3 linked regions of the Homo sapiens genome follow. The protein of the gene in region 1 purifies or fractionates together with the protein of each later gene. This does not show direct contact. Each region holds a gene or a part of one and is shown on either strand. Other genes may lie near its edges. The genes, in order: LDLRAP1, CCDC85C and NLN.

Evidence for each region.
Region 2: the proteins of LDLRAP1 (region 1) and CCDC85C purify together in Homo sapiens (affinity purification with mass spectrometry; 3 studies listed by BioGRID and IntAct, with this or other methods). This does not show direct contact.
Region 3: the proteins of LDLRAP1 (region 1) and NLN purify together in Homo sapiens (affinity purification with mass spectrometry; 3 studies listed by BioGRID and IntAct, with this or other methods). This does not show direct contact.

What each region holds. Positions count from the first base shown.
Region 1 is NC_000001.11:25,538,918-25,546,633, reverse strand, and holds the start of LDLRAP1 (low density lipoprotein receptor adapter protein 1), read right to left. Parts: upstream 3,029-7,716; 5' UTR 2,936-3,028; coding exon 2,848-2,935; intron 2,684-2,847; exon of another isoform or gene 2,293-2,683; intron 1-2,292. UniProt on the Homo sapiens protein: Adapter protein (clathrin-associated sorting protein (CLASP)) required for efficient endocytosis of the LDL receptor (LDLR) in polarized cells such as hepatocytes and lymphocytes, but not in non-polarized cells (fibroblasts).
Region 2 is NC_000014.9:99,601,146-99,609,215, forward strand, and holds the start of CCDC85C (coiled-coil domain-containing protein 85C), read right to left. Parts: upstream 3,063-8,070; 5' UTR 2,815-3,062; coding exon 2,022-2,814; intron 1-2,021. UniProt on the Homo sapiens protein: May play a role in cell-cell adhesion and epithelium development through its interaction with proteins of the beta-catenin family. May play an important role in cortical development, especially in the maintenance of radial glia.
Region 3 is NC_000005.10:65,788,171-65,795,269, reverse strand, and holds part of NLN (neurolysin, mitochondrial), read right to left. Parts: coding exon 6,786-7,099; intron 2,817-6,785; coding exon 2,615-2,816; intron 1-2,614. UniProt on the Homo sapiens protein: Hydrolyzes oligopeptides such as neurotensin, bradykinin and dynorphin A. Acts as a regulator of cannabinoid signaling pathway by mediating degradation of hemopressin, an antagonist peptide of the cannabinoid receptor CNR1.

The sequences.
Region 1 (7,716 bases):
GGCCTGAATGATCCCAGTACCTCTGGAAAGAGTGCTGAGGGGCCAAGGTGAGCCCCTCTTCCAGGCAGCTGGAAGGAAAATGCCTGGCCAGGGACTGAGATAAAATATTGATGTCTCCCCAGGGGATAGGAAAAGCCATGTGTGGGAGAGGAAGAGAGCCCTCTTTCAAGGTCAGGACAACCAGGAATCCACTGCAGGCATGAAGCTGGGTGGAAAGAAGCCTGGGGTGCTGGCTTTGCTGTGTGACCTCAGGCAAGGTGCTGCCCTTCTCTGGGCTTCTTTCTCCACAAATAAGCAATGCTCATGCTAATCCTAGTGAGGACCTTGAGGAGGAGGAGCAGGTCACAACTGAGAGCAGGGTTCGAGTCTAACTTTAACTCCACTGGCTTCAGTTTGGCCTCAAAACTCAACCACAGGGACCAGGTCCAAGGCCAGGCTGGGTCACAACCCTGAGCAAGGTGACCCTAGCACCCCCACCCCCACATACCCCATGGCCCCTGCTCTAACCTGTGGCCACTGCTGTCAGAGGCTGCCAGCCCAGCGTGGGGTAGGTGGGGCCTGCTCCCAGCTCCTCCCATGGCAGAGTTCACCAAGCACACTGGTAAGACCCCTGCGCTAGGAATGTGGAGCTCTGCCTCTTAGATGCTCTGTGTCTGGAGCCAATGACTCCAATGCTCAGAGTCTCAGTTCCTTTGTCTCTAAAATGGGTCTGCTCTGTCACCTCACAGGAGTCAATGAGAGAATGGAAGCAAAAACAGGTTGTAAAACAGTTACAAAAGCAGCAGTTACCATTTACCAAACTCCTCCTCTATGCCAGGCAAACGCAATTCCACTTGATCCCCACAAACAGCTGGAGGCAGGTACTACTGTTATTTGCAATTTACAGGTGAGGAAATTGAGACTTCATCACGAGGGACAGGTGGGGCTCGGCCTGCCCTCCTTCAGATCCAGAGGCTCCAGGACAGCACTTTGGGCTTACCAGGGCCTGGAGGAGGGGGAGAGGTGCTCCTCTCCTTTCCTCCAAAGGTGCAGACAGGCTCGGGGCCCCCAAAACCCATCTCACCACAGTACTAATCATGCTGGCAGCGTCCCAAGGATAGGCAGGGGGAAGAGGAGCAGGGGAGAAGAAAGCCACCAGTTAGGAGGGAGCATTATTACCAATAATCTCCTTGATACTCCTGCCAGGTAAGAGTTTTTATCCCCATGTTGCAGATGAGGAAACCGAGGATCAGAAAGGACAAGTGACTTGCTCAAGATTGAAGATGGCAAGAGAAATTCTCTTCCACATCCAAAGCGGCTACCTCTTCCACGTCCCCAGATTCAGAGATATTTCTTTCTAGCCTCCCTTCCCTTGCCAGCCCCCCTTCCTTCAAAACCACTTCCCTGGGGGCTGCCCCACCACCCTCCCTCCCTCATTCCTGGAGAAAACCCGCAGGATTCTCCCACTGGAACAGATGGCCATCTCAGAAGTCCTGGTCAAATCTTGCCAGTTTTTAAAGGGTCTATTTTGGGATGCAATCAGTGTGATAAACGGTACATCCCCTGGCCTAGTGGCCCAGCCCTAATGGGTCTCTGACCCCACCCCCCACCAGCAGGCACCACCCCACATTCCCAATGCCAATGCCAGTCTCAGCTGGGAGGCGGCCACAGCTGAACAACAGAGTGGGGCCAGAGGAGGAGGGAGGCGGGCCCTCTAGGCCCAGACACGCTGGCACTCCTTGGACCAGGGAGCTCGGGCTCCCCTGGCAGAGCCCTGTAAGGCCAAGAGGGGATGGGATGAGGGGGTGCTGTACTGTCAGTTGTTTCCTGATGAGGGGAGAAGCTGTGGCCCGAAGTAGGTGGCAGGGAGGTGGGAGTGTGCAGCAGTCCTGGGCTCTGGCTCCAAAACCAGCAGGAAGGTGTGTGTGACCCCAGGCAAGCCACTCTCTTCTCCCTCCCAAACAACGAGACCTGCGCTAGGCTGGGTCTTCTGGCTTCAGGGGAAGGTGCCAGGTGACAAGTTCCCTGAGCGTAATCAGAGACTGGGGGAGAGAAAGGGGGGGAGGCCCCTCCCAGCCTCCCAGACGCCCCAGGGAGAGGTGGCGGCGAGTCTGTCGTTTGCCTGGGCACCCAAGGGACTCTGGAAGCCCGAGGGGAAAGGTGCGAGAGAAAACAGGTTTCAAAAATAGTCGGGACGCCAGGCTTGCCACCTGGACCCGGCTAGAGGAAGGGACGTAAGGGTCTAGATCGCCTGATGTGGGGCTCTCCCGAGGCACCCCAGGCGGGGCCTCGTTCCCAATTTCAAGTACGTACCTGCGACCCCGGGCTCACACCTGGATGGGTGTCTGGGCACCCGGAGTCAAAAGTTGGCCCGGTGGGTCGGGCAGGGGGCGGGAGAACGGGCCAGTGGGCTCCTGACCGCCGCAGCTGCTGGCTGGGGCGCAGGGGTGCGGGACGGGGGCGTCTTCCCAAGCCCCTGCGCCCTCTCCTCCTCCCCTAGGCACCGACGACGAGCGCCTGCCTCCCCCTAGCTGGCCAGGACAGCAGGGCGGGAGGTGCCGCGGGTGGCGGGGGCCTCTTCTCCCAACCTGCACCCCACCCCATGCCGGCTGCACCTGAGGACCCCGAGCTCGGGCTCCTTCCTCAGCGCTGCCCCTCCTCGCAGCGGCATCGAGCGGCCGGCGAGTAGGTGCACAACTTGACCCCGGCCGACCCCCTGCCCCGCAGGGCCGGGAAAGGGCCACGCCGGGACCGGAGCGCCGGTGAGGCCCCGCCTCTGCCCAACTTGGCCGCACTCCGGGCGCCCGCGGAGGCCCCGCGCGCCTCTGCCCGATCCCGGCCCGGCCCGGCTGACGCGCGCACACTCACTGCGGTGCCGGCCACCGCCCCCCCAGCTCTGCTTGGCCAAGCTGGGGCTCCGGATCAGCGCCCGCCCCGCCGACTTGAGCGCGTCCATGGCCCGCTCCGGCCGCCGCCGCCGCTGCCGCAGCCAAAACTCCGTCAGGAAAAACTTTCCGCCCGGCCCTGCGGCGCGCGGGCTGCGCGCTCCTCCCCTCCCAGCGCCAGCTCCGCCGCGGCGTCCGACGGGGCGGGGCGAGAGAGGACAGGCCCCGCCCCCAGACGGGCCGCGCCCCCGACGGCCGGTCTCGCCCCGCCCGGTCCCTGTCCAGGCTCCAGGTCCAGGCACCAAGAGTTTCCGAGGCCGCCCGAAGGCGCCAGAAGATAGCAAATCGCAAGCCCTAGACGCCCCCGCTTTCCTCCTTTTCCCCAATCCCCACCCCGTAGGGGCCTGAGGGCCTGAGAGCAGCGGCCTAGGATTTCCAGTGACCATTTTACAGATGGGGAGACTGAGGGCTCCTCCAGTGGTGAAAGATCTTGTTCAGGGACAAAAGCAATGCGATGTCCAGGGCAGTGGGAGACTTAGGAAATAGTGGAGGCTGTAAGCCAGGGATATCCAAACTTTTGGCTTCCTTAGGCCACATTGGAAGAAGAAGTGTCTTGGGCCACACATGAAATACACTAACACTAACGACAGCTGATGAGCTGAAATATATATATATACACACACACTCATGTTTTTTGTTTTTCTGTATTGTTTTTTTTCCCCTGAGACAGAGTTTCACTCTGTTGCCCAGGTTGGAGTGCAGTGGTGCGATCTCGGGTCACTGCAACCTCTACCTCCCGGGTTCAAGCTATTCTCATGCCTCAGCCTCCCGAGTAGCTGGGATTACAGGCATGCACCACCATGCCTGGCTAATTTTTGTATTATTAATAGAGATGGAGTTTTACCATGTTGGCCAGGCTGGTCTCGAACTCCTGACCTCAAGTGATCTGCCCGCCTCAGCCTCCCAAAGTGCTGGGATGGCTGTGAGCCACCACACCCTGCCCAAAAAAATCTCATAATGTTTTAAGAACCTTTACCAATTTGTGTTGGGCTCCATTCAAAGCCGTCCTGGACCTCACATGGCCAGTGGGCCACAGGTTGGACAAGCTTGCAGTATAGACCCTTGTTAGGCGCAGGGTCGGTATATAAAAATTTGCCTTTAGCAAGTCCAGCCAGGCACTTTACTCATCCTCGTAGCTCCCAGGCTGCTCCCTGGCACCACCTGAGCATGCTGGGCCACCCCATGCCCCCGCAACTTCCCAGGTAGCCTCACAGATGGTATGATCTGGAACGTGCCCCTGACACTGACTTGCTGTGTGACCTCAGGCAAGTACTTCCCCTCTCTGAGTCTTGTTTATCTGTGAATGAGAGTCAATGCTATCTCTAGTGATCCTTCCAACCTGCCAGGGTCAAGAATCTGCATGACCTTGACCCTGACCCCAAGCTGCTTCCTAGGAGCATTCGGAGGGCAGTCTGAACCCCAGAATTGCTCAGGCACAGATGTTCTAACTCCAGGATTGGAAGGATTTGTTCTAACTCTCTAGGATGCCATGCCTTCCTTTCAAACTGTGCCAAAAGGAGCCAGAGGGAGGACACACACATCCAAGCCACAGCCTGGCTTCTTTTAGAAGGGGGTGCCTCAGGCAAGGCCAACTTCAACCTCTGTAATTACTCCTGGCTCAGAAGCCAGCAGTCCTCTCTGTGTCGGGAGAAAGATAGTGCTGTGCTGTCCCCAGCTGGATAGGGCGGCCTCACTGACATTCCCCTGTTTATAAACCAAGTGCTTTGTTAGCCAGTCTGTCCTTGGCTTCCCCAGCAACACTGCTTAGGTGGACCCACTTTACAGATGACAGCCCTAGGTCAGGGAGGGAAGCATTCACTGATAGTCTCCGAGAGTCAGAGACTGGGATCAGACTCAGGCCCATAGGCAATGGGGTAGAGTATAATGCCAGGGGTTAGAACCCAGCTGTCCTTCTGGTGGTTGTGAACTCACCCTTCTGAGCCTCATCTGTAAAAGGGACAACTATATCTATTTCACAGGGCTGTCCTTAAGGACTAAATAACAGGAGTTGGAATGGCTGAATCCTGTTCTTGAGAACCCACCTTTAAAGTTGCCTCCTCCAGGAAGGCTTCCCTGACTACCACCCATGGATTAAGTTTCTCTTTGTGGGCGCCCACAGTCCTGAACTTTCAGGATTGCAAGCACTACTGCTGCCTGTTTATACTCCTCTCATCTCCATTAGACTTTGTACCCTCCAAAAGCAGGAAGTTTTTCTGATTCATTTCTGAATCCCAAATGCCTAGTAAGGGGTCCAAATGGAGTTGGAACACAGTCAGTGTTCCTGTCCTTCCTCCCTCCTTTCCTCCCCTTCTCCCTTTCTCCAGCTTTTCACCAAACCAGGCTGCCTTCTGCAAAAGGGCTGTGGCAATAGGTAGATGGGTCCACAGGGCTGAGTGCCCCCAGCTCACTTATCCCAAGCCAGCTAGATTCTGGAATAGTAGAGAGAGCATTCTGAAGCAGGGAGGAAAAGTGATCACCCAGGGCAGACTGGCCAAGGGCAGCTGGTGGTGTCCGGCTGGCAGGGGGCACCATATGGGCCTGATAAGCAGGAAGGCCTGGGAACGCTGCGTGTGCAACGAGAACTGTTTACCAGCCTTTGCAGTTTCCCGGAGATGGCTTGCTGCGAGCTGTCAGCCATGTGTCCCCTGCAGAGGGGCAGCCTGCTAGTGCCCCTTCTGCCAATCCCAGAAACAGAAGCAGAAACAGAAGGTCAGAGCTGCGAGTGGCCTCCTCTGAGGTCACTGTGGCCAAACCCTCATTTCACAGATGAGGAGCCTAAGGCCCAGAGAGGGACAGGGACTTACGCAAGGTTACACAGCAAGCCAGGAACAGATGCCAGGTCTCCTGCCTCCCACCTTGGATGCTTATAACAACGAGGAGGAGGCAAAGAAGTAGGGCCGCGTGCAGTGGCTCGTGCCTGTAATCCCAGCACTTTGGGAGACTGAGGCGGATCACCTGAGGTCGGGAATTTGAGACCAGCCTGACCAACGTGGAGAAACCCCGTCTCCACTAAAAATACAAAATTAGCCGGGCGTGGTGGCGCATGCCTGTGATCCCAGCTACTCGGGAGGCTGAGGCAGGAGAATCGCTTGAACCCAGGAGGCAGAGGTTGCAGTGAGCCGAGATCACGCCACTGCACTCCAGCCTGGGCGACAAGAGCGAATCTCCGTCTCAAAAAAAGAAAAGAAAAGAAAAGAAAAAAATAAGTCCTGAGATTCAAGAGGGGCTTGAAAGGGGATTTTTCTTTTCTCTTTTGTTTGGTTTTCTGTTTATCTGCTCTAACTTTGTAAACATTTCTGCAGTGATCATGTTCCTTTAGTAATCAGAAAAAGAACAATAAACGGGGTCGGGGAGCTACCTATAAGAATAAATGGCTTTTGTCTTTAGTCAAATGGCATCAGCTACAATCTTACTAATTTCTTCCTCAGTGGACCCACAGGACCCCAGCGAGATAGTGGATGCCAAGGAGTTGACAGGGCTGTCAGCCTCTCTCCAGCCATCATTTGGGCTTGCAGTGGGACCAAGACAAAAGCCTAAGCTGGGATGAGAGTCCCTGGTTTCCTCAGGTGGTCTGTCCTCCCTACTTCCCTGAGCCAATCCCTTCCTCTGTTTCTTCATCTGTAAAATGGGAGTTATTAGTGGAAGACACCAGAGCGCAGTAGTGAAGCACACTGATGCTGCATCCCGGGATCCAGGCTTCCCTATTTCTTTACTGCATGGCCTTAGGCAAATTATTTAAATTCCACAGGCCTCAGTTTCCTCTAAAATGTAAAATTGGTGCAATGGACTGAATGTTTCTGTCCTATCAAAATTCGTATGTCAAAATCCTAACCTTCAAGGTATCAGCAGATGGGGCCATTGGGAGGTAATCCTTTCATGAAAGCAGAGCCCTCATGAATGGGATGAGCATAAAGAAGACCCCAGAGAGATTCCTGGCCCTGTTCACTCTTACAGTGACAAGACAGCCATCTATGAACCAGGAAGCCGGCCCTCGCCAGACCGAATATGCCAACACCTTGAACTTGAACTTCCCAGCATCTGCAACTGTGAGAAATACATTTTTGTTGTTTATAAGGCAGCCGGCCTTTGGTATTTTTATTAGAGCAGCCTGAATAGACTAGAATAATGGGGATTACACCTCATGGAGTCATCATGAGGATTAAAAGTTAATGTAGGCTGGGTGCCGAGGCTCACGCCTGTAATCCCAACACTTTGGGAGGCCCAGGTGGGTGGATCACCTGAGGCCAGGAGTTTGAAACCAGCCTGGCCAACATAGTGAAACACCTTCTCTACTGAAATACAAAAATTAGCTGGGTGTGGTAGCAGGCGCCTGTAGTCCCACCTACAGGCTGGGACATTAACAAAAGTTAATGTTTGTGACATGTTTAGAATTCTGCCTGGCATATAGTAAGTGATGTATATGTTGCATATATATATATATATATATATACACTTTTTTTTTTTTGAGATGGAGTCTAGCTCCATCTTTTTTTTTTTTTTGAGTTGGAGTCTAGCTCTGTTGCCCAGGCTGGAGTGCAGTGGTGCCATCTCGGCTCACTGCAACCTCCGCCTCCCAGGTTCAAGTGATTCTCCTGCCTCAGCCTCCTGAGTAGCTAGGATTACAGGCACCCACCACCACGTCCAGCTAATTTTTGTATTTTCAGTAGAGACAGGGGTTTGACCATGTTGATCAGGCTGGTCTCGAACTCCTGACCTCGTGATCCGCCTGCCTCGGCCTTGCAAAAGTGCTGGGATTACAAGCATGAGCCACCATGCCCAGCCGCATATTTTA
Region 2 (8,070 bases), on another chromosome or scaffold:
GACAAAACTAAATAATAATAATTCCATCTGTAACCGAAATTTGTAATAATAATGCTGAATTTTCATTTCACCCCAAAGCAAGGTTTGCTGCCACAACATTTGCAGCAGTCCTGTGCTAAGTGGGCTTGGGGGAGGATGGGTTCTGTGGGAAACCCTATACTTCAACCTCCCACTGACCCCCAGTGGGGTGGAAAACTCAGTGTAGCCTAGTCCTCCACTCCTGTATTATTCACTGTCGCAGCTGACATGCTGAGCCAGACTGGGGCCGCATCTCCTTGCCCAAAACTCGACAGAGCCTTTCCTGCAAGTATGCTCTAAACACTCCAGCCCTCCAGTGTCCTGCAGAGAGGCACTCTTGCCAAGTGTCATTGATGACGCAGCTGAAAACCAGAAACATTTCACTTTCCAGCCACGAGACTGCAGCAATCTGCTCTTTGGACTGCACTTAGGGAAACCGAGGCCCAGATAACTGACCCCTCAAAAGCCCCCAGGACGGCAAAATCAAAGGGGCTGAGGTGCTCTGAACAGCCCCAGCAAATTAAACCACCTAACTTTGCGCTACTCCCACTGCCCTGAAGCAGCCTGTGGTGGGAGGTGGGGGTGGATACAGTGTTACAAAGAGAAACCTGAGTTGTAGCCATAGATTGCTAATCAGTAACAAAATATCCCTCTAAACCCAGTCCTGCCTTGAACCCACAGGCTCAGGATGGTAAATAAAGGAAAAACATGCTGCACTGCCCCTGCCCCACCTCCATGGGTATGTCTCCCACCCCAGCCCCCACCCCAACACGTCTGCAGAGGCCACTTGGCCACCAAACTAAGGAGAAAACGTCCCTCCCCAGCTCAGGCTGAGGGGTTCTGGGGAGGGCAGTTATTGCAGGCTTAGACACACTTTCTCTGAATTAGGAAAGGCTTTAAAGGGAACCAGAAAGAGCTGTTCATTCTCCACCTTCAGGCAAAAAGTTCAGGCAGTTGCAACTACCAGCAGAACTGGAAGCCAAGCTACCAAAAAACGTGGAAGAACAGGGAGGCCCCGGATCCACCAGCGAGGAGGAGAAAGCTGGCAGGGAGCAGAAGGGCTGAGCAGGGGGCTGGGAGAGGGAGCAGGCTGCAAGCTCCCACAGCCCCAAGCTGGGGCCACCCTCTGCACTGGGCGCAGCAGTAACATGGGCGTAGAAGACAGAAGCTGACAGAGGCCAAAGTTCCTCCCACCCACACCCTGGTCACGGATGACCACGGCACTTCCTGTAAGGCGATCAACAGTTTATAAATCCCTTCAGAAGGTTTATCTCCACCTCAAACCCACGAGGCAGAGGTCATCATCTCCATTTCACAGACAAAGAAACTGAGGCACACAGAGGAGAAAAGCTAGAATCCGTTCCAAATACATCTCCCTCGGGAAAGTCTTAGAGTCTCGGCTGAGAAAGGTCCCAGGACTAGAAGGGCGGAATTTATGGCAAACAAGAAAGGCTCTGAGCCCCAGGCCTCTCCCCAACTGCCTCTGGGTCTCAAGCGGCTGCCTGTGCACCTTCCCAATCCCCACACCCCACTGCAGAACTCCAGCCACCGCACACACGTGGACGCTGCTTGGTTTGGAGGACACCTGTTGCTGCAAGAGGGGAAATTCACTTGCGCTCAAGGGGCCTTGTATCCTTTGCTGTTTAGAACTTCCCGCTACTAGGCAAGGATTTCCAAGGCTGGGATGAGGCGCCCACCGCCAGCCCAGCAGTGACAGACCCTAATTTTGGCAACTACACCCGCTAGAAACTTTTCTGGGACCGGACCGGCAGCAGGTTCTGAGCTGGACAAAAAGACGCTCCACCACTGAACCGGCCCACCACCGCCCAAAGCCCCACTTTGGGTGAGTGCGGGATCCCCTGGCCCAGGATCCATGACAGCTGGAGGAGTCTGGAGTGGCGGCCGCATGAGTGGGACAGCCAGGGACCACCTCCTCTCGCCGCAGCCTGGGAAAAGGGCTGCAGCCAGGGAGACCCGCGCTGCCCGGCCCGTGTAGTCCTTACCGTGCAGGCCGTTGGGGATGCTGCGGTGGTGCGGCGGCGCCGACAAGTCGTCCAGGGACCGACGTGTGGCTCCTGCCTTGCCGTCGGGGGCCTTGTGCGGCCCGGGGGGCAGCAGCGGGGGTGGGACGTGGTGGTGGTGGTCGGGGCTGCCGCCGCTGCCCGCGCTGGACGTACTGCTGCCGTCGCCCACGTCGCGGGCCCCCGCGCCGGGCGCGCCACCCGACAGCGGCCCGCTCAGGCTGGCCTGGCTGTCGATGGAGCTGCGGGAGCCGGCGCCGCCCCCGCCGCCGCCGCCACCGCTTGCGGCCCCCGTCGCCGCCAGTGCCGCGCGCTCCTCGTCCAGCAGCAGCACCAGCTCCTTGAGCTCCAGGTTCTCGCGCAGCAGGGCCTCCTGGCGCGCCTCGAGCTCGCGCAGCTTCTGCTGCGAGCGGGCCACCTCGTGCCACACGGCGCCGGCCGCGTGGCGCCCGAAGCGCTGCCACTCGCGCGCCAGCTTGCGCCCCTTCTGCCGGTCGTCGTCGAGGAAGCAGCAGAGCTCGCGCAGCTCCTGGTTGTCGTCCTGCAGCCGCTGGTTCACGTCCTTGAGGCCGCGGATCTCCAGCAGGTGCTGCTGCAGCCGCCGGTTCACGTCGCGCATCAGGCCGCCGTGCTCCAGCATGAGGCCCACCTTCTCGCCCTCGGCGCGCCGCAGCCGCCGCGCCAGCTCCTCCTTGCTCCAGCGCAGCAGCTCCTCGTCCGGCACCTGGCTCAGCTCCTCCGACGCCGCCGCCGCCGTCGCCGCGGGCTTAGCCATGGCGGGGCCGTCACCGCGGCATCGCCCTCGCCCTCGCCCGGCCGGCGCTTCCCCGCGCCGGGGCTCCGCTGGGCCGGTCCGCGCGCGGGCGGGGGGCGGCCGGGGGCGCGTGCGGCCCGCCCCGCGCCGCCTGGCGCGTCCTCTCGCCGCGCCCGCCGGGGCCGCCCGGGAGCCCGCGCGCCTCGGGGTTGACGAGCGGAGGCGGCTGCTGCGTCGGCGGCCGCGGTGCCGGGCGCTCTCAGGGTTCTGGAGAAGCAGGCGGAGGCCCGCCCCCGGCCCAGCTCCCGGAGCCCCCGCCGCCCCGCCCACCCCGGGCGGAGAGTGGGCGGGTCTCCGAGGCCCGGCCCCGCCCCCGAGGGCGACTGGGGAGCAGAGGCGCGGCCCCCGCCGTCCCCCTGCGCGGTGCGCCCGCCCGTCCAGTGCCCTCTCAGAGGCGCGTTCCGGCCGCGGTCCCGCCCTCCCGGCCGGGCGATTGGGCCGCTCCGGGGGTGTGCGGGAGGGGCGGGGCGCGCGCGGGGGAAGCTGCGGCGGTGGTACGGTCCATCCGCGGGGTTTCCGACCCCCGCCCGCGGCCGGCTCCCGGCGGTTCAAGTTTCTGCGCCCGGAGGACGCGGCCTTAGCCAATCCCAGGGCTACAGGGCGCTTTTAAAATGCAGGTACGGCTGCGGGGAGGGGGACGGTGGGAAAGGTAGGGCCGGGCTTCCCTTAAAGGCGACGCGCGAAAATAGCAGTCGAGCCCCCTCCCCGGCCCGCGTCCCCGGTCCTCTTCCCTCTCCCCAGATAAACAAATACCCACGATCCGGGCGACGGCGCCCCTTCTCCCTCCCGGGGGCACCAGAGTTCAGGGCAGTCGGAGACACAGCGAACAATAGGACTGTGACATGGGGGTCGCTCTTCCCCGCAGCAGGGCGGCTCTTTGTCCCCTTCCCTGCCCCCAGGCTCCTCCGCCCCCGTCCCCACCCGGGTCCCCTGCCGGAGCACGCGGCGGGGCTGCGTCTCCACTCCTAGCCCAGGGCTGAGCTAAACGCTGGCGTCCGCGCCCCTGCAGGGCCAGGGCCTTGCCAGCCGCGTCCCGCAGCGCGGTCAGTACTCTCTGCCCCGATGGGGCGAGAGCTCCGGGAACCTGCCCCCTGCCCGGAGCGGCGCTCGGAGCCCCGCTCCACCTCCGCTCACTCGACCGCTAAATCCCTGGGATTCGGGAGATAATCTGCAATTCGCGGGGTGGAAACCACTGGGAAGGGTGGGAAGGTCTCCCACTGGGGCCTGAACGCCGGGGTCCGGGGGCGCCGAGCCGGCCACAGAACTCCCCACCGGCGGCCTCGCGGGACCCCCGGGCTTCCCACTGCCTGTAAGTCTGTCTCGTTATCCTCCGGTCCCCAAAGCGCATTTACGGCGCGTCTACCGCCAGCAGGCGGGGCGGGGCGGGGCGGGGGGGGGTCCCTCCCCCGGAACCTGCAACGAGATCAAATCCGCGCACGCGACAGTGAGCGGCCCACGGCCTGGAGCGCGCGCCCGCGCAGCAGCTGATGCCCCATTTACAGTTGCTAAGCCGTTCATTCAGCTGTGTACTCAGCGCCTACTCGCCGCGGGGCCTGCTCCAGCCCCGGGGGATTCTGCAGGGCACCGAACTGCCCTCTGCGGGGGACTTGGCGTCCTGGGAGCAGGATGGGGAGAAGATAGACGAGCTAGATCAGGATGAGACTTGTCTTAAGTGCTGTGCGGGGCATTAAGTCGAGCTGCTGTCATAGAAAGCATAATCAGTTGCTTTAGATCCAGCGGTCAGGGAGGTGGGGAGGCACATCTAAGCTGAAGTCTGATTGGCAAGGTACAAAGATAAGGGGAAGGGCATTCCAGGCAGCAGGAACAGCCAGTGCCAAGGCCCTAGGGCTGGCCTGTTACAGACCTGTTCCAAGAAGGCCAGTGGGGCTGGGGGTGGGCCAGGGAAGAGGCGTGAGAGCTGAGGTCAGAGGTCAGAGGGGCCAGATCATGTATGATTCCAAGACAGCTGGGGAGGCAGTGGGGTTTTAGCAGGGAAGCAACATGACCTGGTTTACCTTTTTAAGAGGCTCACCCTGGCCCACATGTTGAGAAGAGATGGAGGGGAGTACACAGAGAGGTCCAGATTCAATATCTCATCTCCCACCCGTTCGCCACTCTCTCCAGACAGATGGTCAGGGGAGGGTGGTGGGGAGAGGATGGGCTGAGCACAGCTTCCAAGGTTAAACCCCAGGGATGCTGAGGGTCTCCCAGGCCCTGCCCAAGAGAACCAGCTCCTGAGGGGAGGGGACATCCTCCCCTCTGAGGCACTGCTCTGCTGGTCCAGCACAGCTCAGTTTGGGTTTAGAGAGGGAGGGGCTTTCAGCTTCTGCCTGGGGGAGCTGCAGGTCTGTCTCAACCCCCAGGAAGCCATATTAACTTCAAGGAGCTCCTTGCAGGCTCCCTGCAGAATGAAGCCTGTGCACAGAGTTGCTCCCTGGAGATCGAAGCGTAAACGTTGGATACACCATAGGAAAAACCCACCAGCTCACCAGGGAAGTTGCTGAGACAGCACTGTGCTTTGTGAGAACCCCCTCCCCGTTCGTGCATGGCTCCTGGTGGTTCCTGGGGCCTGTTATCTCTGCCCCCTGATCCTCCAGAGCTGGCAGCTTCCGCTGAACTTCCAAGAAGAAAGTGAAGCCTCTATCTAGGTGGGGTTTGTTTGCGTCATCTACAGGCTGTGTGGACCAAGGACCAAGAGTTCCTCTGTGGAGTCTTGATAGCTTTGCTCACATCCTCAGGGTAGAACAAAGACAAGGTGCTAGTGGTGGTGGTACTGGGTGGTTTGAGGGAGGGTCTCTCTGCTCCCCACACCAGGGCTGGGAATGCTTGGGCAGAACAGGACAGGACCAGAGGAGGTGAGAGGGCCCAGGGCTGAAACAGCGTCCTGAAGGAAAAGGGACTCCCCAGGCCAGAGCCCCCTCCCGGAGGGCCCATATCGCAGGGTCCAGCAGTAGGTGCCATGCCCCCTGGAGTACTCACAGCCCAACAGAACCAGGATCCCAAAATGTCAACGTGACTTTGCCTTTTTTTTTTTTTTTTTTTTTTTTTTGGCTAAGACAGGGTCTCACTCTGTCTCCCAGGCTGGAGTGCAGTGGCATGATCTTGGCTCAGTGCAGCCTCAACCTCCGGGCTCAAGAGATCCTCCCACCTCAGCCTCCTGAGTAGCTGGGACCACAGGCACCACCATGCCTGGCTATTTTCTTTTCTTTTCTTTTTTCCCCCATAGAGACAGAGTCTCACTGTGTTTCCCAGGCTGGTCTCAAACTCCTGTGCTCAAGCAATCCAATTCTCCTGCCTCAGTGACTTTGCTTCTTAAGCCCCTTGGTCATGACAACTCTGCTTTGTTATGAAAACAGTGAAACCAAATCATGGTGCACTAACAGTCATACTGTAGGTGCCCAGGGAAAGTAGCTGTGAGTCTTTTCAAAATAAAGGTGCCCCACCAACATTCTACCCCCCTTTTTTTAAAGACTCTCCCAGGATGTGTGTGTTCATTTAGAGCCACACACATTTGTGAGAGCCAGCAGGGGCTGAGAACCGGTACGCTAACACACGGTAGATGCTAATACATGGTAGACAAAATACTCCAAAACCTAGGGCCTGTGGGGGGAGTACTGGTACAAGCTGGTGACAAGCAGAGTGTGCCCCTCACTTTCAGGGGGAATGGACTTTCTTACTCTTCTCTATGGTTGGGGCTGTGAGCTCCAACCCCAGAGGCAGTACCATTTGGTGTTTGCTGAGTGAATGTCAAACCTCTCAGTACGTGACAGATTGAGTCTGAGGCTTCATTTTGAAGGTGAGGAAAAACAGAGCCCCAGAAGGGAGATGCCTGGCCCAAGGTCACTTTCATTCATTAGCTCACTGAACATAGAGGAAATCTATGAGTATATATGCATTTATACACAAACACATTTAAATGGGAATATATATATACACATTGCAATGCATTGTGGTAAGTACTGCAAATGAGAATGGGCAGAACACATCATTGTGGGAGCATGCTCAGGCACTGGGAGTGGCTTCCTAGAGGAGGTGAATCTTGAAGGAGTTTGTCGTCTTGTGGAGTGGGGAGGAGGCTCCAGGTGGAGGAAGCAGTACAAGCAAAGGCCCAGAGGTGAGCAGGCGAGGGGTGTGGAGAGACACTATTACACCTTGCAGCTGGGGTATACAGAAGGGAACAGCAGGGTGGGGAAAGTCGGGAAGAGGTTGAGCGATGGAGCTGGGCAGAGGAGGGCTTTGTAAGCCTCAGAAGGAAGCTGGACCCTTTCCCTGGGAGCTCTGATATCTAATAATAATGGCAATGACAATGACAATAACCAACACCACCTGCCGCTTATCCTAGACTCAGTATATGCCAATGATTCTAACCTGTCCTCTTTTGAGGGTTATAATAAACCTATGAGGAGGTGTCATTAGCCCTTCGAGGATTGAACATGGGTTCTTATTGGCTGGTTGTTTGCCTCCAAGAAGCTCAGCTCATTGGGCGTGAACTTACAGGCAGTGTTCAGAGGCTTGTGGACACCCAAGGACTCTGGTATGGCCAACAAAGTGTTTGGTGGTAGCTGAATCTTCTTCAGGACAGTGAGGCAATGGTGGCTGACCAGGTCTGGGCCAGACTATGAGGTATCATCCTGAAAGGCTACCAGCAGCAAGAAGTCAGGGTCCACTGAAAAGTGGTTAAGTGTTACTAATATGGACAATGTTGACTGGGCACTTTCTAGGTACCCAGCACTGTGCTAGAGTTCCACATAGATTGTCTCACTGACTCCTCACTGATGCGGTAAGAACCCTCTGTTCCCATTTTACAGAGTAAGAAACTGAGGCTCACACAGGTTAAGTCACTTGCCCAAGGTCACATGGCTAGCAAGTGGCTGAACCAGGATTTGAACCCAGGACCATCTGAGCTCCAGAGTGTATCTGACCCCATAGACTACTGTCTCCCACACCTCAGTTTCCCTTCTCAAGAAGGAGGAATGGGGTGGATGCTCTGCGATGTCTCTTCTGCTGTGACTCTGGTTCTGTGATGCTGAGTGTCTGCAAGGTGCCTGGACCCATGTTCACCACCCACTTCCTCCTGCTTCAGGCTTTTCCATGTTGTGACCAAGCCTCAGTGGCTCTGACGCCTCTGGATGGCACCTGTGGTCAGAGCTCTCCAGCTATTTCTACTGATAGAACACTGCATGTCATTAGCTCAGTCTCCCTGCAACTCTATCACTG
Region 3 (7,099 bases), on another chromosome or scaffold:
GTTATGGGTGTGAGCTGCCATGCCTAGCCTTGCAAAGCCTAGCCACACTACCGCACCCAGCTAATTTTTTTTATTTTTGGTAGAGATGGGTTTTCACCATGTTGCCCAGCCTGGTCTTGAACCCCTAGGGTCAAAGCAATCCTCCTGCCTCGGCCTCCCAAAGTGCTGGGATTACAGGCATGAACCACCACGCCCAGTCAGTGCTATGAAAATGAATTTTAAAAACACCTAAGAAAGAAAGATTATTCTGAAAGATTTATTTTCCTTGGATTAAAGAGAGATTAAAAATGGCCATATCAGGACATTTCTCTGGACATACTCATATACTATTCCCCTCTGTTTTTTAAAACAAAAGATGGAAGCACCAGGTTAAAGATAAAATGTTGAAAGAACCAGTTTTTAAACAAAGGTGACAGAATTATTTTGGAAATGAATGGGTACATTTTGGGTTATTACAATGATTAGGGCTACTCTGGGATATAGGGATGCTGGATGCACAGGACTGATTCTGCACATGTCAGGACAACAAAAAGACTGTTCCATATCCTGCTCGTCATTCATACCCCCTGCTGGACTATTCACATAAATCAAAAAAACTAGCTGTAACTAAACCGAGAAACTAACCCCACTGTACATATTTTTGCAAAGCATTTTTTTTTTCTTTTGAGACCGGGTCTCACTTTTTCACCCAGGCTGGAGAGCAGTGGCGCGATCACAGCTCACCGCAGCCTCGACCTCCTGGGCTCAGGCAATCCTCCTGCCTCAGCCTTCTGAGTAGCTGGGACTACAGGTGTGTGTCATCATACCTGGCTAATTTTTGTATCTTTTGTAGAGACTGGGTTTCACAATGTTGCTGGTCTTGAACTCCTGAGCTCAGGCGATCTGCCGCCCTTGGCCTCCCAAAGTGCTGGGGTTGTGGGTGTGAGCTGCCATGCCTAGCCTTGCGAAGCATTTTTTACACCATTTTAATTTCTAAGACTACAAGTACTAGGATCTACTGTGTAAGTTGAAGTGAGATTACTTTCTTTTGAAGTTTCCCAGGAGGTGTTCATCATTTTGGAACCTCATGCCACCATTGTCAGCACTGTTCTAGGACCTGAGCTGACAACATAAACCACTTCCATCAGTTTGCACTTGCTGCTGCTCCATTCAGGGTTACTTCCATACAGTGCAAACCTCCAGCATACTTCATTATGTCTTACTGCATAGTCATATCCAAGCATTATCACTTGAAAAATACAAAAATTTCTTCTATTTATATTCAGTGAGGACACCGTATGGATTTAAGAAGATTCTCTGTATAAAGACCATTAAGGAAAACTAGTAAAATCCAAATAAACTGTGGTGTTCAGTCTGGAGTACTGTATCAATGCTGGCTTCTTAGCTATGACAAATGTGCTATTGGAATGGAAGATGTTACAAGTAGGGGTGAGAGGCTGAGGGGTATACAGGCAATCCTTATATCATCTTTGCAAGTTTTCTATGAATCTAAAAGTATCCTAATAAAAATGTTTTTGTTTTTGTTGTTGTTGTTTTTTAAGTCTACCTTTAGAGACATACAGAGATTTCAAATTTGGAAAACTGTACCTTCATTTCTGTTACTATCAGTTTTTTGGGTGGTTTTCTTTTTTTTTTTTTTAAGTCAAGGTCTGCTCTGTCACCCAGGCTGTGGTGCAGTGGCACAATCATGGCTCACTACAACCTCAACCTCCTGAACTCAAGTGATCCTCCCACCTCAGCCTCCCGAGTAGCTGGGACCACAGGCACATACCACCATGCCTGGATAATTTTTGTTTGTTTTACCACGTTGCCCAGGCTGTTCTCAAACTCCTAGACTCAAGCGATCCTTCCACCTTGGCCTCCCAAAGTGCTGGGATTACAGGCATGAGCCACCATGCCCAGCCAAATAACAGTATATTTCAACTATTACGGTGAATTGCTGAACTAGACATTTTCATATGTTAATAATGGTTAAATGTTAGCAAGTTCATATGGTTCATGCTAGAATAGTCTGGGCCTAATTAAATGGACTGTATTACAAAGTTGAGAATAAATGTACTTTTTATTTTCAGAAATAAAAAAATCAGTTTTAATCTACTGCACACATACACCTCCACTCTGGCAAATTCTTTGCATGGTTAGACTATATTATCTATGATTTTAATTTGAAGTTAGTAAAGGCAAATGTTACAAAATTATTATTTAAAAATGAGTAAAGGGTCTAAGAGGATTGAAAAACCACTAAAGTAAACAAAGCATTGATAAGCAGAAGAGACAGATTACAGCACAGTTTTTCTGAGAAATTTATATCAAATTCCTAAAGGATTAAAAGGAAAAAGCAAAGTATTTGTAACCTTTCCTTACAGATAGTCTTATTCTTTTTCCATAGGCTGTTATTCAACAAACATCTTTCACTGGTAGATGAACCTCCAAGTAAAAATATGTTGTGAAAGAGGACAGGATAAGGAAAATTTTGGTTTTGCAGAAGGCCTATAAAATTCTTGAACACATTCAGCTTCTGAAAAAACCTGTTAGGAGCAGAAACCTGACAGCAGTCAAGAAGTTTTCTAAAAAAACTAATTGGCAGGTTTACTGGGGGAAAAAAAAAACTCACCTGTGCACAAATCTGATGCATCACGTGACCAAACTCATGAAAGTAAGTCCTCACCTCGTCGTGTCTCAGGAGAGAGGGACGACCTGCCACTGGCTGTGAGAAGTTCACCACGAGGGCAGCCACTGCCATCATCCGGCTTCCATCAGGCAGAAGGCAGCCAGGCTGGAGACCGAAGCAGGCCGCATGATTGTATTTTCCTTCCCTAGGAGCCAGAAACACGCGTTGGCAACATAGGAAAATTCTCCTCTAGCAACTACACTGGCATGGCCTCTTCCAGTCATTAAGCCATATCTGTTACCAGAGATGCCTTTAAACATTAATTTACCTTTTAGAAAGTAGGTTATTTTGCTAAAATGGAAAAACTAAAGCTAAACAAACAATAACCCCACTAACATTCTGTGTGAGCTCCGAAGTTTCTTTTATTGAAAAATCTCGAGGTAAGAATGAAGAATGCATGTCACACCGACAGCTGAATGTCCAATTTATTTTAATGAGGTTCTACTTTTCTTTTTCAAAGATGGGATTACTAAACACTAAACAATGCTGAAACCCACATTTGAAATAAAAGATACAGTTTGACTCACTAGGCAGCCTTTTCATTAAAATCGGAATAAAAAACTGAATTTCTGACGATAAGGTTTTTCCTTTTATTTGAGGAGGAAAGAATCAGTAATCACAATTAAATAAGCTTCTTTTATAAACTAGACAGGCCTTTTTGAAACAGAATGCTTTTAGTTAGCCTGGGAAAATGCATAAATTATACTATCAATTAGACTATTCTTGTACAGTGTCGTATCTGTGTGGTCTTTCCAAAAGCTATTAGACTTCATTCTCCAAAAGCTATCAGACTTCATTTTGGGAGTACGTGTCCTTTCCCCCTTTTCTTTTGCTCAGAAGACTAATAGTACCTGGTCTTTTTATTTTTTTTTTTTTGAGACAGAGTCTTGCTCTGTCATCCAGGCTGGAGTGCAGTGGCATGATCTCAGCTCACTGCAACCTCTGCCTCCCAGGTTCAAGCAATTCTCCTGCCTCTGCCTCCTGAGTAGCTGGTATTACATATATACAACACCACGCTGGTTAATTTTGTTCTCTTGTTTTGAGACGGAGTCTTGCTCTGTTGCCCAGGCTGGGGTGCGGTGGCAAGATACTGGCTAACTATAATGTCCACCTCCTGGGTTCAAATGATTCTCCTGCCTCAGCCTCTAGAGTAGCTGGGACTACAAGTGCCTGCCACCACACCCAGCTAATTTTTGTATTTTTAGTAGAGATGGGGTTTTCCCACGTTGGCCAAGCTGGTCTCAAACTCCTGACCTCAGGTGATCTGCCCTCCTTGGCCTCCCAAAGTGCTGGGACTATAGGTGTGAGTCACTGTGCACAGCCTAATTTTTGTATTTTTACTAGAGATGGGGTTTCACCATGTTGACCAAGCTGGTCTTGAACTCCTGGCCTCAAGTGATCCACCTGCCTCAGCCTCCCAAAGTGCTGGGATTACAGCCACTGCACCCAGACAGTACCTGGTCTTTTTAAAACCTATTCTGAATACCCTTTTTAAAAGTCAGTTAGACAAATAAAACAAGTTAATCCCTTTTACCTTTATGAAGAGAACATCTTAAGATGACAGGAAGTAAGTATTAACTAGGTCACTACTTTCACAAAGATTACTCTCTGTTACCCACACCAGGGTGCTGGTAGCAATGACCAGATCTCTCAGTACAAAAGAAATTAATTATATCCTGGCAGTGAGACAGCAGAATGAGGTAGCAAGAATTGTTATTTGACGCTGGAAAGAAAATCTGAGGACAGTTATAGGAGACTCCAATATTAAAGGATTACTCCTGAAAGAGTTCTTCGGTTAAAACTATATCCTGATACTTTTTATTTAAAAATAAGACTCATCTATATTTGGCAGGGTTTTACTTTTAGGTCATAATATTAGTGAAAGTAAGTCCATAAAGCAGCAGGTGATGTGATTTGGCTGTGTCTCCACCCAAAGCTTATCTTGAATTGTAGTTCTCATAATCCCCACGTGTCGTGGGAGGGACCCAGTGGGAAGTAATTGATTCATGGGGTAGCCAGTCTCATGATAGTGAGTGAGTTCTCACAAGAGCTGATGGTTTCATAAGGGGCTTTCCCCTGTTGGCTTGGCACTTCCCCTTCCTGCCGCCACGTGAAGAAGGATGTGTTTGTTTCCCCTTCTGCCATGATTGTAAGTTTCCTGAGGTCTCCCCAGCCCTGCAGAACTGTAAGTCAATTAAACTTCTTTCCTTTATAAATTACCCAGTCTCAGTCAGTTCTTTACAGCACTGTGAGAAAGGACTAATACACCAGGATAATCACTTAGGTGCTAAAAGACACTTCTGCCCACCAACTAGATGACACAGTTACTCAACCTACTTTTCAGCACTCAAAGTCAGTGGATTACAAACTTGTGTGTATTACTGAATGAGGGGGATACTATACTCTCCTTTGATCTATTTAAATGATTAGTAATTGTAAGAGGTTGACTTTGCTTTAGAAAGTAGCCTGGGGAGAAAGAGATCCAAATCCTTTTGTATCTGATGAAACACTATGGAATCTATAGTTATTACATGCTATAGACACAATTATAACATTTTTATAATTGTTACCACTGATATCTGGGGAAGATGATTTGCACATATAGTCTTTAATGCATAAAACAATCCTGTAAAAGGATTTCCAGTCCCATATTACAGAGGAAGAAACAGAATCTCAAAGAGGTTATGTCACTCAAGCATTCAAACTCAAATCTGACTGACTGCAAAGGTTTTGCTACTTCTACTAAACTGTGCTGCCTCTCAGCCAGACTGAAGGGAGTGGCCATAGATTATTGGCAGACAGATTATCTAATAAATATTTTGGTGCTCAATTTTATTTATTTATGTTTTTTGAGTTAGAATCTTGCTCTGTCGCCCTGGCTGGAGTATAGTGGCGTGATCTCAGTTCCAGGGTTCAAGCTATTCTCATACCTTGGCCTCCCAAGTAGCTGAGACTACAGATGCCTGTTAAATTTTTGTATTTTTAGTAGAGACAGGGTTTCACCATATTGGCCAGGCTGATCTTGAACTCCCGACCTCAAGTGATCTGCCCACCTCAGCCTTCCAAAATGCTGGGATTACAGGTGTGAGCCACCATGTCTGGGTGGTGGTCAATATTCAATTAAGTAAATGTAGTGCACAAACTAGATGATGATGATAATGACAATGGTAGCAGCTAACTCTGATTAAGCCTTTGCTATGTGCTGAGCAGTCTTCTAAATGCTTTGCATGTATTCAACCAATTTAATCCTTACAGTGACCATACAAAGCAGGTACTACTAATATTCCCAGTTTATAGGACCTATAATATAGGTAAGAAAACTGGGGCACAGAAAAATTAAGTAACCTACCTAGTAAATGATGATGCCAGACATTCTGGCTTCAGACCCACATTTTAAATCTGTATACTAAGAAGCCCATGTGAGAAATATGGAAGAGTAGAGTCTTTTTTTAAATTAATTTTTTTAGAGATAGGGTCTAGCTCTGTCACCTAGGCTAGAATGCAGCAGTGTGATAATAGCTCACTGTAACCTTAAACTCCTGGACTCAAGTGATCCTCCTGCTTCAGCACAGCTAGGACTACAGGTGTGCACACCACACCTGGCTAATTTTTCATTTTTTTTTTTTTGAGACAGGGTCTCACTCTGTCACCCAGGCTGGAGTGCAGTGTTGCAATCTTGGCTCACTGCAGCCTCCACCTCTGAGGCTCAAGTGATCCTCCCACCTCAGCCTCTCAAGTACCTGGGACTATAGGCATGTACCACTACACCTGGCTAATTTTTGTATTTTTTGTAGCAACAGAGTTTTGCCATGTTGCCCAGTCTGGTCTTGAAGTCCTAGACTCAAGCAATCCACCTGCCTCGGCCTCCCAAAGTGCTGGGACTACAGGCATGAGCCACCACACTTGACCTAATTTTTAAATTTTTTGTAGAGACAGGGCCTCACTATGTTGCCCAGGCTGGTCTCGAACTCCTAGCCTCAAGCAATCCTCCCACCTTGGCCTCCCAAAGTGTTGGGATTACAGGCATGAGCCACTGTGCCTGGCCAAGAGTAGAGTCTTAAAGTAGGCATAGCTGAATCCCTAAGGTCCCTTCCAACAACGTGATCCTCAGTACCTTGGATAGAGGTCCAAATAGAACTGTCCCAATACTTCTCCTGTAGCTTTATCCTTCACAGTATAAAGTGTAACACTCTTGTTCCAAACATGAGCATCTGTCATTTGTTCAAATGAAAGTCCCAACAACTCCTGGTAGGTGTTCAGCAAGCCTTCAGTGACCACCTCAATTGGGAAGTATTCCTTGAGGAACTCTTGGTCTATGGAATACTTGAGTTCCTCTGTCTGAGTCATGTAGTAATATAGATCCCAGGCATTGATTTTCCCATCATATTCAAAACCCCTGTCTTTGCATTCCTTTTTCTTCAAATTCAA